Linked DNA regions of Homo sapiens: region 1 is reported to be linked to region 2. The links are microRNA targets in miRTarBase. Many come from high-throughput screens and were not tested one by one. Region 2 holds a microRNA gene; the other region holds the end of a gene's coding sequence.

Region 1 (3,000 bases), not on the chromosome of region 2:
CCGCCCTTCCACGCCAACGGCACGGAGAAGGCCAAGCTGGTGGAGCTGTACCGCATAGTCGTGTACCTTGGCACCTCCCTGGGCAACATCACCCGGGACCAGAAGATCCTCAACCCCAGTGCCCTCAGCCTCCACAGCAAGCTCAACGCCACCGCCGACATCCTGCGAGGCCTCCTTAGCAACGTGCTGTGCCGCCTGTGCAGCAAGTACCACGTGGGCCATGTGGACGTGACCTACGGCCCTGACACCTCGGGTAAGGATGTCTTCCAGAAGAAGAAGCTGGGCTGTCAACTCCTGGGGAAGTATAAGCAGATCATCGCCGTGTTGGCCCAGGCCTTCTAGCAGGAGGTCTTGAAGTGTGCTGTGAACCGAGGGATCTCAGGAGTTGGGTCCAGATGTGGGGGCCTGTCCAAGGGTGGCTGGGGCCCAGGGCATCGCTAAACCCAAATGGGGGCTGCTGGCAGACCCCGAGGGTGCCTGGCCAGTCCACTCCACTCTGGGCTGGGCTGTGATGAAGCTGAGCAGAGTGGAAACTTCCATAGGGAGGGAGCTAGAAGAAGGTGCCCCTTCCTCTGGGAGATTGTGGACTGGGGAGCGTGGGCTGGACTTCTGCCTCTACTTGTCCCTTTGGCCCCTTGCTCACTTTGTGCAGTGAACAAACTACACAAGTCATCTACAAGAGCCCTGACCACAGGGTGAGACAGCAGGGCCCAGGGGAGTGGACCAGCCCCCAGCAAATTATCACCATCTGTGCCTTTGCTGCCCCTTAGGTTGGGACTTAGGTGGGCCAGAGGGGCTAGGATCCCAAAGGACTCCTTGTCCCCTAGAAGTTTGATGAGTGGAAGATAGAGAGGGGCCTCTGGGATGGAAGGCTGTCTTCTTTTGAGGATGATCAGAGAACTTGGGCATAGGAACAATCTGGCAGAAGTTTCCAGAAGGAGGTCACTTGGCATTCAGGCTCTTGGGGAGGCAGAGAAGCCACCTTCAGGCCTGGGAAGGAAGACACTGGGAGGAGGAGAGGCCTGGAAAGCTTTGGTAGGTTCTTCGTTCTCTTCCCCGTGATCTTCCCTGCAGCCTGGGATGGCCAGGGTCTGATGGCTGGACCTGCAGCAGGGGTTTGTGGAGGTGGGTAGGGCAGGGGCAGGTTGCTAAGTCAGGTGCAGAGGTTCTGAGGGACCCAGGCTCTTCCTCTGGGTAAAGGTCTGTAAGAAGGGGCTGGGGTAGCTCAGAGTAGCAGCTCACATCTGAGGCCCTGGGAGGCCTTGTGAGGTCACACAGAGGTACTTGAGGGGGACTGGAGGCCGTCTCTGGTCCCCAGGGCAAGGGAACAGCAGAACTTAGGGTCAGGGTCTCAGGGAACCCTGAGCTCCAAGCGTGCTGTGCGTCTGACCTGGCATGATTTCTATTTATTATGATATCCTATTTATATTAACTTATTGGTGCTTTCAGTGGCCAAGTTAATTCCCCTTTCCCTGGTCCCTACTCAACAAAATATGATGATGGCTCCCGACACAAGCGCCAGGGCCAGGGCTTAGCAGGGCCTGGTCTGGAAGTCGACAATGTTACAAGTGGAATAAGCCTTACGGGTGAAGCTCAGAGAAGGGTCGGATCTGAGAGAATGGGGAGGCCTGAGTGGGAGTGGGGGGCCTTGCTCCACCCCCCCCCATCCCCTACTGTGACTTGCTTTAGGGTGTCAGGGTCCAGGCTGCAGGGGCTGGGCCAATTTGTGGAGAGGCCGGGTGCCTTTCTGTCTTGATTCCAGGGGGCTGGTTCACACTGTTCTTGGGCGCCCCAGCATTGTGTTGTGAGGCGCACTGTTCCTGGCAGATATTGTGCCCCCTGGAGCAGTGGGCAAGACAGTCCTTGTGGCCCACCCTGTCCTTGTTTCTGTGTCCCCATGCTGCCTCTGAAATAGCGCCCTGGAACAACCCTGCCCCTGCACCCAGCATGCTCCGACACAGCAGGGAAGCTCCTCCTGTGGCCCGGACACCCATAGACGGTGCGGGGGGCCTGGCTGGGCCAGACCCCAGGAAGGTGGGGTAGACTGGGGGGATCAGCTGCCCATTGCTCCCAAGAGGAGGAGAGGGAGGCTGCAGATGCCTGGGACTCAGACCAGGAAGCTGTGGGCCCTCCTGCTCCACCCCCATCCCACTCCCACCCATGTCTGGGCTCCCAGGCAGGGAACCCGATCTCTTCCTTTGTGCTGGGGCCAGGCGAGTGGAGAAACGCCCTCCAGTCTGAGAGCAGGGGAGGGAAGGAGGCAGCAGAGTTGGGGCAGCTGCTCAGAGCAGTGTTCTGGCTTCTTCTCAAACCCTGAGCGGGCTGCCGGCCTCCAAGTTCCTCCGACAAGATGATGGTACTAATTATGGTACTTTTCACTCACTTTGCACCTTTCCCTGTCGCTCTCTAAGCACTTTACCTGGATGGCGCGTGGGCAGTGTGCAGGCAGGTCCTGAGGCCTGGGGTTGGGGTGGAGGGTGCGGCCCGGAGTTGTCCATCTGTCCATCCCAACAGCAAGACGAGGATGTGGCTGTTGAGATGTGGGCCACACTCACCCTTGTCCAGGATGCAGGGACTGCCTTCTCCTTCCTGCTTCATCCGGCTTAGCTTGGGGCTGGCTGCATTCCCCCAGGATGGGCTTCGAGAAAGACAAACTTGTCTGGAAACCAGAGTTGCTGATTCCACCCGGGGGGCCCGGCTGACTCGCCCATCACCTCATCTCCCTGTGGACTTGGGAGCTCTGTGCCAGGCCCACCTTGCGGCCCTGGCTCTGAGTCGCTCTCCCACCCAGCCTGGACTTGGCCCCATGGGACCCATCCTCAGTGCTCCCTCCAGATCCCGTCCGGCAGCTTGGCGTCCACCCTGCACAGCATCACTGAATCACAGAGCCTTTGCGTGAAACAGCTCTGCCAGGCCGGGAGCTGGGTTTCTCTTCCCTTTTTATCTGCTGGTGTGGACCACACCTGGGCCTGGCCGGAGGAAGAGAGAGTTTACCAAGAG
Region 2 (3,176 bases):
CTTGGGGAGGCTGAGGTGGGCAGATCTCGAGGTCAGGAGTTCGAGACCAGCCTAACCAACATGGTGAAACACCGTCTCTACTAAAAAAACAAAAATTAACTGGGTGTGGTGGCACACGCCTGTAATCCCAGCTGCTCTGGAGGCTGAGGCAGGAGAATCACTTGAACCCGGGAGGTGGAGGTTGCAGTGAACCAAGATGTCGCCACTGCCCTCCAGCCTGGGCGACAGAGAGAGACTCCATCTAAAAAAAAAAAAGAAAAAGAAAGAAGAAAGAAAGAAAAAGAAAGAAAGAAAGAAAAAGAAAGAGAGAAAGAAAGAGAAAGAAAGAAAGAAAGAAGCTAAGGTCATTACTACCCCTCACACATGGAGGGCAGCTGAATTCTGCCTCTCTGGAGATCCAGAAGCCTTCCTTCTCCAATGCAGTAGAATGTGACAGCAAGGAAGGAGTGAAGGAAAGGGTTTGGTGATCACCTCAAAATCCTTTCCAATCAAACTACTTGAGTTTTCTGTGAAAGCCAAAGGACATCTCCAAGTGGAAGGAAAGTCATAAGAATGTGTTTTTTTATTTTTTTGTTTGTTTTTTCATTTTAGAAAATGTAATGTGTCACAGTGATATGGTTTGACTCTGTGTCCCCACCCAAATCTCATCTTGAATTGTACTCCCATAATTCCCATGTGTTGTGGGAGGGACCTGGTGGGAGATAATTGGAATCATGGGGGCGATTTCCCCCATACTGTTCTCATGGTAGTGAATAAGTCTCACGAGATCTGATGGTTTTATCAGGGGTTTCCGCCTTTACATCTTCCTCATTTTTCTCTTCCCATTTTTCTCTTGCTGTCATCATGTGAGAAGTGGATTTCACCACCCACCATGATTCTGAGGCCTCCCCAGCCATGTGGAACTGTAAGTCCAATTAAACCTCTTTATCCTCCCAGTCTCGGGTATGTCTTCATCACACAGTGAGAACAGAAAGCAGACAGTGAGAAGCATACTGGCGACGTAAGGCAATTTTGACTAGAAAGTGGAACTTAACTATGAACTATCTGTTTCAGAGAGGATAGAAGCACCAGAACTACTAGCTAATTGTCAGCAGGCAATTATCTGAGGATGCAGGAGAGGAAGGGGGCTTCTTTTTGACGCCTACTTCATCAGCTGCTCCTCAGATCAGAGCCTTGCAGGTCAGGCCAGAGGGGAGACTCAGGAAGTGTTTTTGGTGTTTGTTCCAAATGGGGGCTCATTGTGGGCCCTGTGTCACTGGAATTACAATATCTGTTCAATCTAATTCCCTGGGGCTTTAAGTCTTACAAATTGGCGCTGGCCTCAGCAATGAAAAAAATAGGTGAAGTCTTGGAGTCTTTTCGACCCAGGCTAGTGTGGGATTGTTTCCTCATTTGCATCCACTTACAGAAAGTTCCAGTGATTTCCTTTGGTGACTCTACAGCCAAATGAATGGTCCTGCTAGCGTGTTTTATTGCAGTTTGTCCTTTTGCTTCTTTAATATTCCAGACAGACACATCTCCCCCCTGGGCCCTCCACACACTTTCCTCTCCATTCCAGTAATACTTAGCTTGAGGAGGTGGTTCCTGTACACACAATTCCCCACCTTTCACTCATGGGCCTCCCTCTGACTAGAATGGATACAGATGTAATAAGGGAGTCCCAACCCTCTGGCTTAGGTGACAAAGCTATTTCAATAAAAGTATACTTTTTTTTTCTGACTGCTCGTGTGTTATAACATCATGTGAAAATGGCTAGATAGATGTTGTCTGCATTTGGAGGTAGCTTTATAATGGTCAGACTCAGAAGATATGTTACATGGAATATACAAAATTGATTTGGGGGAGTCCTGGGAAGGACCCCCAAAAGCTAAGTCTTCCAGGGCAGCTGCAATTGAGGTTCGGAGAGAGACTCACCATACCTACAAGATGGCATGGATACAAAACACACAGTCGTTTCAAATATAAGCCCAATTCAAAACAGTATGTACATTCCTCAAATGCCAGGGGTCAATTTGCAAACTGCTACGTACAGGGGCGATTCTACAGTAGCGTACTACTCAGGCAAACAGGAGACAGGCATGTTTCTAAGAATGGGTTATGAATCTCCTGAGCAAACAGAGGAGGCTGGCTAAAGCGAGTAGGAAATATATCAAATCAGTATCCGCCAGAGGCAGATGGCAAGTTGACAGCCAGAACTGGGCCCCTCCAATCCTGAATCAATAGTTCCTGCTCCCCAGGGTTGACTGAGCCCCTTGCTCGGGGGAAGGGGAGAAAGAAAATCCCATTACCAACCAATGCCAAGTCCTCATATTTGGCTCATTTAGGGTCAGCTACAGGTGGTCCGCAGCCATAGAGCTGCCAGATAAAATACACGGCCCCTGGCTAAATTTAAATTTCTGATAAACAGTGGACAATTTTGAGTATAAGTATGTCCGAATATTGCATGGAATATACTTATACTAAGAATGTACTTGGGATTCAAATTTAACTGAGCATCCTGTATTTTTGATAAATAGGCAACCCTACTCAGGCAAGCCATCAGGATGAGTTTGGCAGCAGGAAGGTGGCCATAGTCAGGCCTCTGGTTGCCCTGTTTTCAGGGAGCTGGTCAGGTTATTATCAGGCATTGGGCTGGGAACCCCATCACCAGAACTGTGATAGAGGGTAGGGTTTAGTCTGAGGGTCAAAGCAAGATCTTATACACTAGAACAAGTTTATAAAGTCCCAGCAGGGACTAGTATATAAACCCTCAAGAGCAAACTCAGCAGGAGTCACTGGATGACAGACCTAGACATCCTTAAATTGCCAAGGGCTAGGGGCAGGGCTGAGTTAACAGCAGGATTTCTCTAGAAGGGATTCCTGGGCTGCTTGCATTAGAATCACCTGAGACACTTGGGAAACATGCAGATTCCAGGGCCCCGTACAGACCTGCCAAGTCACACTCTCTAGGGGAAGGCCTAGAAAGCTGCAATTTCTTAATACTCCTGGCTGCTCTGTCATGCACTAAATTTGAGACCCAGTGCTCTAGAGCCAGGAACCAGGTGTGGCCTGCAAATAAGCCATGAGGCACAGTGGTTAAAGCACAGATTCTGGAGCCAGACTGCCCAAGTTAGACTTCTGGCTCTACCACTTATTACCTGTGTGACCTGGGGCAAGTGACTTAACCTCTCTGGGCC

The links. Region 2 holds the annotated microRNA hsa-miR-4330 (CCUCAGAUCAGAGCCUUGC, at 1,159-1,177, shown strand). A microRNA usually pairs through its seed, bases 2 to 8, with sites in the 3' UTR of a target mRNA and lowers its output. Matches are read on the target gene's strand: a 7mer-m8 pairs with bases 2 to 8, a 7mer-A1 pairs with bases 2 to 7 and ends in A, and an 8mer does both.
Region 1: the mRNA of LIF is a reported target of hsa-miR-4330. Seed matches in the 3' UTR shown: 7mer-m8 at 1,243-1,249, 8mer at 1,609-1,616 and 7mer-A1 at 2,237-2,243.

Annotation. Positions count from the first base shown.
Region 1 is chr22:30,240,993-30,243,992 of GRCh38, reverse strand. LIF (LIF interleukin 6 family cytokine) reads left to right here. Exons shown (of 3, transcript NM_002309.5): 3 at 1-3,000. The coding sequence ends at 342. Among named protein-coding and RNA genes, the nearest start is that of LIF-AS1, 3.3 kb to the right of the region's middle. RefSeq lists an enhancer at 1,689-2,357.
Region 2 is chrX:151,167,140-151,170,315 of GRCh38, forward strand. MIR4330 (microRNA 4330) reads left to right here and starts at 1,083; the gene lies at 1,083-1,187.